Regions from separate parts of the Homo sapiens genome. Here region 2 is reported to be linked to region 1. Evidence: microRNA targets listed by miRTarBase, many of them from high-throughput screens and not tested one by one. Region 1 holds a microRNA gene; the other region holds the end of a gene's coding sequence.
Evidence for each region. The annotated mature microRNA hsa-miR-6758-3p reads ACUCAUUCUCCUCUGUCCAG and lies in region 1 at 2,164-2,183, shown strand. An mRNA with a match to its seed (bases 2 to 7 or 8) in the 3' UTR can be bound and repressed. Matches are read on the target gene's strand: a 7mer-m8 pairs with bases 2 to 8, a 7mer-A1 pairs with bases 2 to 7 and ends in A, and an 8mer does both.

Region 1 (5,000 bases):
TAAGACCAGCCTGGGCAACAGAGTGACACCCTACCTTAAAAAAAAAAAAGAAAATTTTTTTTTTCTTTTTTGCACTTCCTCAGCTGGCCATGGTGGTTCATGCCTGTAATTCCAGCACTTTGGGAGGCTGAGGCAGGAGGATCGCTGGAAGCCAGGAGTTTGAGAGTAGCCTGGGCAACAAAGCAAGACCCTGTCTGTATTTAAAAAAAGAAAAAATTGGTTGGGCACGGTGGCTTATGCCTGTAATTCCAACTTCCAACACTTTGGGAGGCTGAGGCGGGAGAATTGCTTGACCCCAGGAGTTTGAGACCAGGGTGGGCAACTTGGTGAAACCCATCTCTACTAAAAATACAAAAATTAACCAGGTGTGGTGGCACGTGCCTGTAGTGCCAGCTACTCAGGAGGCTGAGGTGGAAGGATCACTTAAGCCTGGGAGGTTGAGGCTGCAGTGAGCCATGATGTGCCACTGTACTCCAGCCTGGGTGACAGTGAGACCCTGATATGGACAAGATTAGCACATCCTCTGCACAAGAATGACATGCAAACTTGTGAAGTGTTCCATATTTTTAAAAATTAAAAAAAAAAAAATTTTTTTTAGGGACAGGATTTTGCTGTGTTGCCCAGGATGGTCATGAACTCCTGCCCTCAAGTGATCCTCCTGCGTCAGCCTTCGGAGTAGCTGGGATTACAGGCGCAAGCCACTGCCCCTGGCTGTGTGTTAAAAATCTAGTTAAGGCTGGGCAGGGTGGCTCACAACTGTAGTCTCAGCGCTTTTGGAGGCTGAGGTGGGCAGATTGCTTGAGCTCAGGAGTTCAAGACCAGCCTGGGCAATGTGGCAAAACCCTGTTTCTACAAAAATTACAGTCTGGCATGGTGGTGTGCACCTGTGGTCCCAGCTACTGGGGAGGTTGAGGTAGGAGGATTGCTTGAGCCCAGGAGGTTTAGGCTGCAGTGAGCTGTGATTATGATTGCACCACTGCACTCTAGTCTGGGCAACAGAGCAAGACTCTGTCTCCAAAAAAAAAGTTATATATTGCCAAATTGTGCTCCAAAAAGGTTATATGTGTTTATCCTTATGCTAACCATATATGAGACTTTCCTAAATCAGCCCTCTTTCTCCGTTATCTCAGCTGGAGAAGCGACTGGAGGAGTGGTTGGGGAGGACATTGCCTGGCAGTGACTGGACACCCAATGCCCAGTTTATCACCCGTTCTTGGCTTCGGGATGGCCTCAAGCCACGCTGCATAACCCGAGACCTCAAATGGGGAACCCCTGTACCCTTAGAAGGTTTTGAAGACAAGGTAAAAACCCTTTTTTATTCATATCATTCAGCCTTAGTGTTGAAACCCTGGGCTAGCAGAGTAGACTGCTGATTATGTCTTGTTTCAGTTTGAGACTTTGGATTGGTCCCTAACATGTTTACCTCCTTCTGACCTCCAGGTATTCTATGTCTGGTTTGATGCCACTATTGGCTATCTGTCCATCACAGCCAACTACACAGACCAGTGGGAGAGATGGTGGAAGAACCCAGAGCAAGTGAGCAGTTCTTGGTTAGGCTGTGCATGGGGAGGGTAGGCGGTAGGGTGTGGGTGTTAGGGTTGGGTGTCTGGTCTTCCTTGGGCCTTTGAAGGAGGTCTCAGGAAATCTCTCCTAACCACATTCCCCTAGGTGGACCTGTATCAGTTCATGGCCAAAGACAATGTTCCTTTCCATAGCTTAGTCTTTCCTTGCTCAGCCCTAGGAGCTGAGGATAACTATACCTTGGTCAGCCACCTCATTGCTACAGGTAAGTACCCTGGAAGACTACTGATGGGGTGTTCATAGGAAATGAGGGGTGAGGCAGTACTTGGAAAAAGATCTTGGAGAGCTGCTATCTTGAGTTAGGAGTTGAGCTGAAATAGGAAATAATTAAAATGAGAACTCAACCTAGAGAAACGAACAAGAACCTGAAGAAAGCAAAAGTCTAAAGCTAAAACTCTTTAGTAGATATAAGCAAAGAGAAAAAAGGGCCAGAATGGATAGGAAGGGACTCCCAAAATCTGAGCATACCAGCCCCTTAAGGAGAAATGTTGCTAGACACCCATAGTTGAGGTTAGAAAGAGGAAAGAAGGAAGAGTTAGTGGGCTAGAGAGGGGAAGGATGTGATGTGAGCAGATGGTTCTCACTCATTCTCCTCTGTCCAGAGTACCTGAACTATGAGGATGGGAAATTCTCTAAGAGCCGCGGTGTGGGAGTGTTTGGGGACATGGCCCAGGACACGGGGATCCCTGCTGACATCTGGCGCTTCTATCTGCTGTACATTCGGCCTGAGGGCCAGGACAGTGCTTTCTCCTGGACGGACCTGCTGCTGAAGAATAATTCTGAGCTGCTTAACAACCTGGGCAACTTCATCAACAGGTAGGACTTGGTAAGGGGTCAGAGTTAGCAGTGAGCTGGGGTGGGGCTCATTTTCCCTCAGGAGATGGGAATGTGGAGAGAACTAGAAAATGGGCAGGAGGCTGTGAGGACACTGTGGAAAGTTGATTTCTATTAATTGGGATCTGTTCCTAGCACATACTAGGCTATGTGTGCTTGATGGAACAGTTAGCTGTAGAGATGTGATTTAGCAAAGTTGGTTATAAAGTGGGTTTTTGTAAATTGTTTCCTTATTACTGTTCTTTGTAGAATTGAAGATGTATTCTCTCCCAGCAAAATAGTTCACCTGCAGATCATTGAAAAGTTTGGCTGAAGAAAGGGGTTATTTTGGTGTGGGGGTAGGAGGCTTCTGTGGGCTGGGCATGGTGGCTTACATTTGTAATCCCAGCACTTTGGGAGGCTGAGGCAGGAGGATCACTTGAGGCCGGGAGTTCAAGACTTGCCTGACCAACATAATGAATCTCCCATCTCTACAAAAAGAATCAGCCAGGCGTGGTGGCGCACACCTGTAGTCCCAGCCACTCAGGATGCTGAGGCGGGATGGTCTCTTGAACTTGGGAGATTGAGGCTGCAGTGGAGCAGTACTCGTACCCCTACACTCCAGCCTTGGCAAAAGAGGGAGATCCTGTCTCAAAAAAAAAAAAAAAAAAAGGCTTCTGCTATACTCTTCAGAGTTCAGAGTTTTTGTTACCTTAGGCTCACATTCTATCATTGGTGCCTATCTCAGCTCTTCTGCAATCTAAAGCAGTATTCTCCAGAATTTAGGATTCTTTAGTCACACTCTCTGAGCCCTGGACCCTTATAGGTCAGTCCTGCTACTCACTTTCAGCTTTGGTAATTAACCACATTTAATAAATAGTCCTTACCTACAGGAGTTCGAGACCAGCCTGGCCAACCTGGTGAAACCCCGTCTCCACTAAAAATACAAAAAGTAGCCGGGCGTGGTGGCGCACATCTGTAATCCCAGCTACTCAAGAGGTTGAGGCAGGAGAATCACTTGAACCCGGGAGGCAAAGGTTGCAGTGAGCCAAGATCATGCCACTGTGCTCCAGCCTGGGCAACAGAGTGAGAATCCTCAAAAAAAAAAAAAATTAAAAAAAAAAAAAAGTACTTGCCTAGAGTGTTTGTTTGATAGCAGTTAACACATACTCAGCTTGGTCATTTTGAGTAATGACTTTTTTTTTTTTTTTTTGAGATGGAGTTTCTCTCTTGTTGCCCAGGCTGGAGTGCAGTGGCGCGATCTTGGCTCACTGCAACCTCCGCCTCCCGGGTTCAAGCAATTCTCCTGCCTCAGCCTCCAGAGTAGCTGGGATTACAGGTGCACACCACCACGCCCGGCTAATTTTTTGCATTTTTAGTAGAGACGAGGTTTCACCATGGCCAGGCCAGGCTGGTCTTGAACTTCTGACCTCAGGTGATCTGCCCACCTCGGCCTCCCAGAGTGCTGGGATTTTAGGCGTGAGCCACTGCGCCCGGCCGAGTAATGACTTCTTAAAAATAAGAGGTACAGTTGTTTAACTTAATCAGGTTTCTTATGTGCAGAGTCAGATTCTTAGGGGAGAGAAAGAGTAAATAATTAGGCCTTGTCTACTAGCTTGAGGGAGCCAGGAGTTACCTGTTCCAGGCAGGAATCCTGAGAGAATGTACAGCTGTGGAAATTGGGTGAAATTCTAACAAGGAGACGGGATAATAACTTCCCCTCTTTTTTCCACTTCTGCTTTCCTACTCCCAACCAAGAGCTGGGATGTTTGTGTCTAAGTTCTTTGGGGGCTATGTGCCTGAGATGGTGCTCACCCCTGATGATCAGCGCCTGCTGGCCCATGTCACCCTGGAGCTCCAGCACTATCACCAGCTACTTGAGAAGGTTCGGTAAGTAACTGACACCTCTGTCTTTTCTGCTGGCATGTTGAGAGCCTCCTTGTATTGGTCTCTGTAGGACATTACACCTTGGCCTGCTTCCTCCCTTCCCAGGATCCGGGATGCCTTGCGCAGTATCCTCACCATATCTCGACATGGCAACCAATATATTCAGGTGAATGAGCCCTGGAAGCGGATTAAAGGCAGTGAGGCTGACAGGTAGGTAAGCGGGGAGGGTTGGCTAAAGGCATAAAGTGGCTTGTAAGCTGTATCCTCCTGGAGGTCTTGACTAATGTCTCCTCTTCCTCAGGCAACGGGCAGGAACAGTGACTGGCTTGGCAGTGAATATAGCTGCCTTGCTCTCTGTCATGCTTCAGCCTTACATGCCCACGGTTAGTGCCACAATCCAGGCCCAGCTGCAGCTCCCACCTCCAGCCTGCAGTATCCTGCTGACAAACTTCCTGTGTACCTTACCAGCAGGACACCAGATTGGCACAGTAGGTGGAAGAGCCAGCCTCTCTTAAAATTGATACTCTTGCCATGCAGCTTTTGGAGTGGGTGAGAGAAGACCTAACATCTCTCCAGTGTTACTTTGGTCATGGGACTCCTAAGTTTCTGATATAAAGTCCTTGGTAGTCGTTCACAAGTCCGGAATTATCTGTACATCTTCATTGTTCTTCATGCCAGAAACCAGAACCTGGCACACAAAACTAACTGGTAAACAGATA
Region 2 (5,520 bases), not on the chromosome of region 1:
TTGCCACCAGGAGCTGTCTGTGGGGTCTGTGGGGAGATGGGCCAGCTCCAGGCTGGGGTTTGAATCAGTTCTCTCTCCTCTCCCAAAGATATCCAGAAAGGGCTGTGATATTGCTGCTAGACCCTGAGGGGAGGGAACAAGGAGCTGGAGTGGAACAGTGAGAGTGGTGGCCGGGTGTGGTGGCTCACGCCTGCAATCCCAACAGTTTGGGAGGCCGAGGCGGTGGATCACTTGAGTCCAGGAGATTGAGACCAGCCTGGGCAACATGGTGAAACCCTGTCTCTACTACGAAATACAAAATTAGCCAGGTGTGGTGGTGCGCCTGTAGTCCCAGCTACTCAGGAGGCTGAGGTGGGAGAATCACTTGAGCCCAGGAAGTCAAGGCTGCAGTGAGCCATGATTGCACCACTGCACTCCAGCCTGGGTGACAGAGTGAGACTCTGTCTCAGAAAATAAAAAAAGCGAGAGTGGGGACTGGTTTTAAGAAGTCAGTTGATAAAGTGGAGGCTGTGAGTGGGACAGGGACAGAGAGGGTGCTGTGGAGCGCACTCCTGGAAGTGGGTCCCTCTTCTGTCTTCACTCCATCACCTCTCCTTGATGAGACCCCCCGGGCAGTCCTTGATGGAGGGAGAAGGAGGGATGGGGGCCACAGAAGGGGCTGCCCTGGCATAGGTCCTTTCCCTGGCTGCTCCTGGGTTATTTGGGCTCCAGAGTCAGAGCATGGGGAGAGGTGGGGAGAGAAGGGTCCTGGGGGTTCTCCCGGGGAAGTGACTCATTTTCACCGTGTCCACCACAGGTTCCGGCTCAGCAGCCCTCACTTCCTGCTCGTGGTCCTTCTGAAGCTGCCCCTGCTCCTGAGCATGCTGGGTGCTGTCTTCTGGGTGAACAGGCCTCAGTGGGCTCCTCCTGGAAGATAGAGCCAGGCTGACCCGAAGCCCTGCAGAGCCCCATCCCCAGGAGTGCCCCGTGCAGGGAGTCAACCTTTCAGACTGGATGCGAGAGACCTGTGGACTCTGGAGGGATTTATTGTTCCTGTGCCTCAAAGGAGGGTCCTGGCTCTTAGAGGACACTCCTCTGGAGTCCTCAATGTGCAGCTTGGGGGTCCTCCTTTCTCCTCCCCAGTCCCCTGCCTCCCTGCCCTCATGCCCACTTCCCAAGGGCAAGAATTCCCTGGAAGTTGGCCGGGCACCATAGCGAGTGCCTATAATCCCAGCTCAGGAGGCTGAGGCAGGAGGATCGGCTGAACGTAAGAGTTCCAGGCCAGCCTGGGCAACATAGAGAGCCCTGTCTCAGAGAGAGAGAGAGAGAGAGAGAGAGAGAGACAGAGAGAGAGAGAGAGAGAGAGCGAGAGAGAGAGAGAGAGAGAGAAAAGGACGGAGGAAGGGAGGGAAAAAATTTTCTGGAGGAGCCTGGCCCTTCATTCTTCTTGGCACAAATGCTTCTCAGGCCAGTTTCCCCCAGGGCAATAACTACCTCCTTCCTGCAGACAGGAGTCTCCCTGAGGACACACCCCTCACAGCCCCAGCCTTTAGGCTCACAGAGCTCCATCTCTTCTCTGGGACAACCCCAAGGGAGCTTGGTCCCGGCAGAGCTTGCTCATGCAGTTGCCCAGTGTCCCACATGCTCAGGGCTCCTCTCGTCTTCTGACGCCCCTTGGGTCTCCCTGGCTTTAAGGCCCCTTCTCTCCCTGTAACCAGGCAGTGTGTGGCTGGGCTCAGAACATCTCTGCCTGGGTGGGCCGTGGATGAGCTGCTCCAGGTTAAAGTTCTGGGGCGAGTTGAAACAGTAAAGGGAGAAGGAGCTGGTGGGTGCCCCTGATATCACTCCTGGAATTCCCCCACCTGGAGGTGTCCAATGCACAAGGTCAACAGAGTCAGTTCTGTCCACTTTAGAAGTCTGGCTGAGACCACCTGTTAGCAATTAACCTTTTCCACAGGCAGAGCAGATATCGTTTTTCAAAGACAGGATGGAGGGCACAGAGGTGAAGGATACTTGTCCACACTTGAAGTGCACAGTGCTATCACCACTACTGGTGACCCCTGGCTCGGGAATGAGCTCAGTTGGTTTTCTGAATGTTTGTCAATTACTCTGTTTCCCTAAAGTTTGTGGGGAGGACTCCCACAGTCTGCCACAAGCAAGCATCACCATCTCCACTTGCTACCTACATCTGGACCAGTGCTCCCCCTCTGCCCCCAGGCCTGAGCTCATCCTGAGCTAGTGATGCCAGTGTCCAGAGCACATGGAGTGACCCTCTGAGTGCCGAGTGCTTAGGCAGAGCTGCCGTGCTCTGAACTTGAGCTCTGGTGGGGCTCCCAGCTCCATCATGCATGGTGACTAGGGGAAAGATGGGGCTGGCCCAGGACTCATGCTGAAAGAGAAATTCAATCTAACAAGGCCCATATTAATTATATTAACCCGGGAAATATGATGATGAGCAAGAAAGGAGCTTATGATTCATTTTATGAGAAGGATAAGCTCCCAAGTCATTACAGCATAGGAAGAACTCTAGAGCCACAAGAGATGCTTCCTGATGTCAGGGGGTTGGTGAGGAGAATATCATGCCAAGCTGGCCAGGTCAGGGAAAGAAGGTGACATTCATGTTGATGTTGAAGGAGGTATAGGATTTCAGCGGAGCAGGGATGGAGCAACAGGGAGAGAGAGAGGACAGAGAAACAGCATAAGTGAAAGCAGAGAGGCGGGAAATAATCTTCATAACAATAGTCACTTATAGAAGACCTATCAGCAAATGGACTGTACTGTTCACATACAGATGCTCATGGTAGGATGTGTCTAAGATTCCAATGGAGTGAAATTTTCCTGTGGCAGGCCAGATGGAACTAATCTAGAAGAACTCAGGTGGTGGCAGGTTCAGGAGGCTTAGGACTCAACTCTTACTTAAACTTTGATTAGCTATGGTGGGATGGATTTGAGCAGAACAAGATGGGATTGCAGATGTGCTTTAGGAGGACTTGCCTAGCAGATGTAGCAAAGTCTGAAAGGAAGAATCTGGGAGTCCGGAGTCTTAAGCCTGGAAAACCAGAGGAATCGGGCATCATTGACAGAAGTAGGAAAGTCAAGAGCAGGCTTGGATGATGCAGAGCTTAGTTTTCTGTGTGTTTGGAATCATCAGGCAGAGAGGTCTAGCAGATAGCTAGAGATGTGGGTTAGCAGAGTGTTGAGGGCTGGAGAGGAATGTGTGTAGAGAGATTAACTGGAACCCAGCAAGAAGTGAAAACATGGAGGGAAGAGTTCAGAACCAAGGACAGAGCCCTCGGGGCACCTGCATTTAAAGACAAAGGGTAGGAGGAAGACATTGATCAAGGTGCTGGAGCAGAATCAAACAGGTGGAAGATGAGAAGTCAAGAGCCATGAATGTTTCAAGGAGGAGAGCAGAGCTAGAGAGGTGGAGGAGGACCGGGATTGAGAGGAGGCTATTGAACTTATCATTCACAAGGTCACTAATGAAGTTCAGAAGAGCAGATCAACAGAGCAATGACAGCAGAAGCCAGAAGAGAAGAGTTAAGAAAGAGTAGACAGATGGCAGACAGCAGGTGCAGGAGAAACAAACAGTGGCTTCTCCATGCTTTGAATTTTCCCTTCTCCCTTACTCCCTTTTTTTCCCCTATTCTTCCTTTCTTTTTTCCCTTTATTTACTCATTCATTCAATAAACTTTTATTGTGTGTCTATGGTGCATTGTTCTGGGCATTACAGATAAGGACTTAAACTATGCAGAGTCCCTACTCCTTTAGAAGGGAAGTCTAAGATGTAGACTAACAATAGCGATGCGGTGTGTTAGAATTTGTGTCAGGGTTCTGCACAGTGCTCTGTGGGGGCACAGAAGGGAGGCACTCCCATGAGGGCCAAGCGGAGAAGGAAAATTGAGGGCTTGAGTTATAAAAATAGGGCAGAAGACTGGGGGATGATTGTCCCAGACAATGGTAGGGAAGAGTCATAGAGCATGGTGGATACCAGGACCTTCAGGAGCTACGTTACCATTACCATGTGTGCAGAGTGCATGTGAGGGAGGAGTGAGATATGGGGCTGGAGCCTCAGTCTGAAAGGGCTTCATGGCAGACCAAGAAGTTTGAATTGTGTTCTGGAGGCCATAGGGAGCCCCTGGAGGTTTTAATTTTTGAAACTTTTATTTTGAAATGATTATAGGCTTAACATTGCAAATATAACATAGAGTCCTGTGAATCCTTCATCTAGTGTCTTTCAATGGTGATGTATTATATAACTGTAGGACAAGACCCAAACCAGGAAACCAGCATTGTTACAATACTGTTAGCTAGACTGCAGACTTTGTTCAGTTTTCACCGTTTTTAACATACATTGGTTTATGGATATGTTTGTGTAGAGTTCCATGCAATTTTACAGATCCAGGTAACTACCACCCCCGTCAAAATACAGAACCAATCCATCATCACAAGGATCTCCCTCATGCTGTCCCTTGTATTTGCACCCTTATCCCATTCCTGTCCCCTGGAAACCACTAATCTGTTCTCCATCTCTACAGTGTCATCCTTTTGAGGACAAATGAAATTATGCAGTATGTAATATTTTGAGATTGACTTTTTAATTCACTGAGCCTTGAGATCCATACAAGTGGTTGCACTTACCACAACCAATAGCTGATTCCTTCCTATTGCTCAGCAGGATTTCATTGCATGGGTGTAAAATAATTTGTTTAACCATTCACCCACTGAACCCAAACAAGACATGTCTGTGCAAGTAATGGCTGCTGGACTGTGACCTCTGAGTAAAGGATAGGTGTTTCAGGGCCTCATTTTTATTCTTGGGACCATATGGTGCCCCCAGCAGGCTTGGGAAGTGACCTTCTAAAGTGCACAGATGGGCCTGCAGGGATGCTGTGTGGGCCAGCTCCAGGCTGCCATTCAGAGGCAGAATCAACTCTGCTCTCTGGCCTTGTGACTGGGGACCAGGTGGCTTCACCCCTTCACGTCCCGCTATTCTTATATGTGACATGAAGGCGCTACATTATGATTCTTCCACAAGGCAGTTTAAAAACATGGCTGCAAATTTCTTGATACTCCTTCCATGAAGAGTTGTGGCTTAGGTCCCCTCCCCTTGGGTCTGGCTGGGTTGTGACTGTTTCAACTTGTGGACTAGAACAGTGTTTCTCAACATTTTTTCATTGTTATCCTAAGATAACAATGAATATCCCTAAAAAAAGAATATCCCTAAATATCTCCCCTCATGAAATGTTAATACCAAAGATGTATTGTACATCCATCCATTCACCTGTCTATCTATCTATCTATCTATCTATCTATCTATCTATCTATCTACCTACCTACCTATCTATCTATCTACCTATCTATCTATCTATCCATCCATCCATCTATATCTCTGTTTTGTATCTAGAAAGAGTAAAAATATTTTTCCACCCTGCAAGAACCAATATTTGCCCCCATGGGGAATGCAAGAGGGCCTCCGTATGGCTTCCAAGGCTAAGTCAGAAGAAACCCTGCAGCTCCCTCTTCAGTCTATTGAAACGC

Region 2: miRTarBase lists CD300E as a target of hsa-miR-6758-3p. Seed matches in the 3' UTR shown: 7mer-m8 at 2,049-2,055.

What each region holds. Positions count from the first base shown.
Region 1 is chr12:57,510,568-57,515,567 of GRCh38, forward strand. It overlaps MIR6758 (microRNA 6758), which reads left to right and starts at 2,121; the gene lies at 2,121-2,183. MARS1 (methionyl-tRNA synthetase 1) reads left to right here. Exons shown (of 21, transcript NM_004990.4): 12 at 1,131-1,301; 13 at 1,441-1,536; 14 at 1,669-1,786; 15 at 2,184-2,397; 16 at 4,153-4,284; 17 at 4,387-4,491; 18 at 4,583-4,769. It also overlaps the pseudogene LOC124903093.
Region 2 is chr17:74,608,050-74,613,569 of GRCh38, reverse strand. It overlaps CD300E (CD300e molecule), which reads left to right. Exons shown (of 4, transcript NM_181449.3): 4 at 797-3,685. The coding sequence ends at 917. All of the region lies in intron 3 of LOC101928343 (a long non-coding RNA gene), which reads right to left. Among named protein-coding and RNA genes, the nearest start is that of CD300E, 13 kb to the left of the region's middle.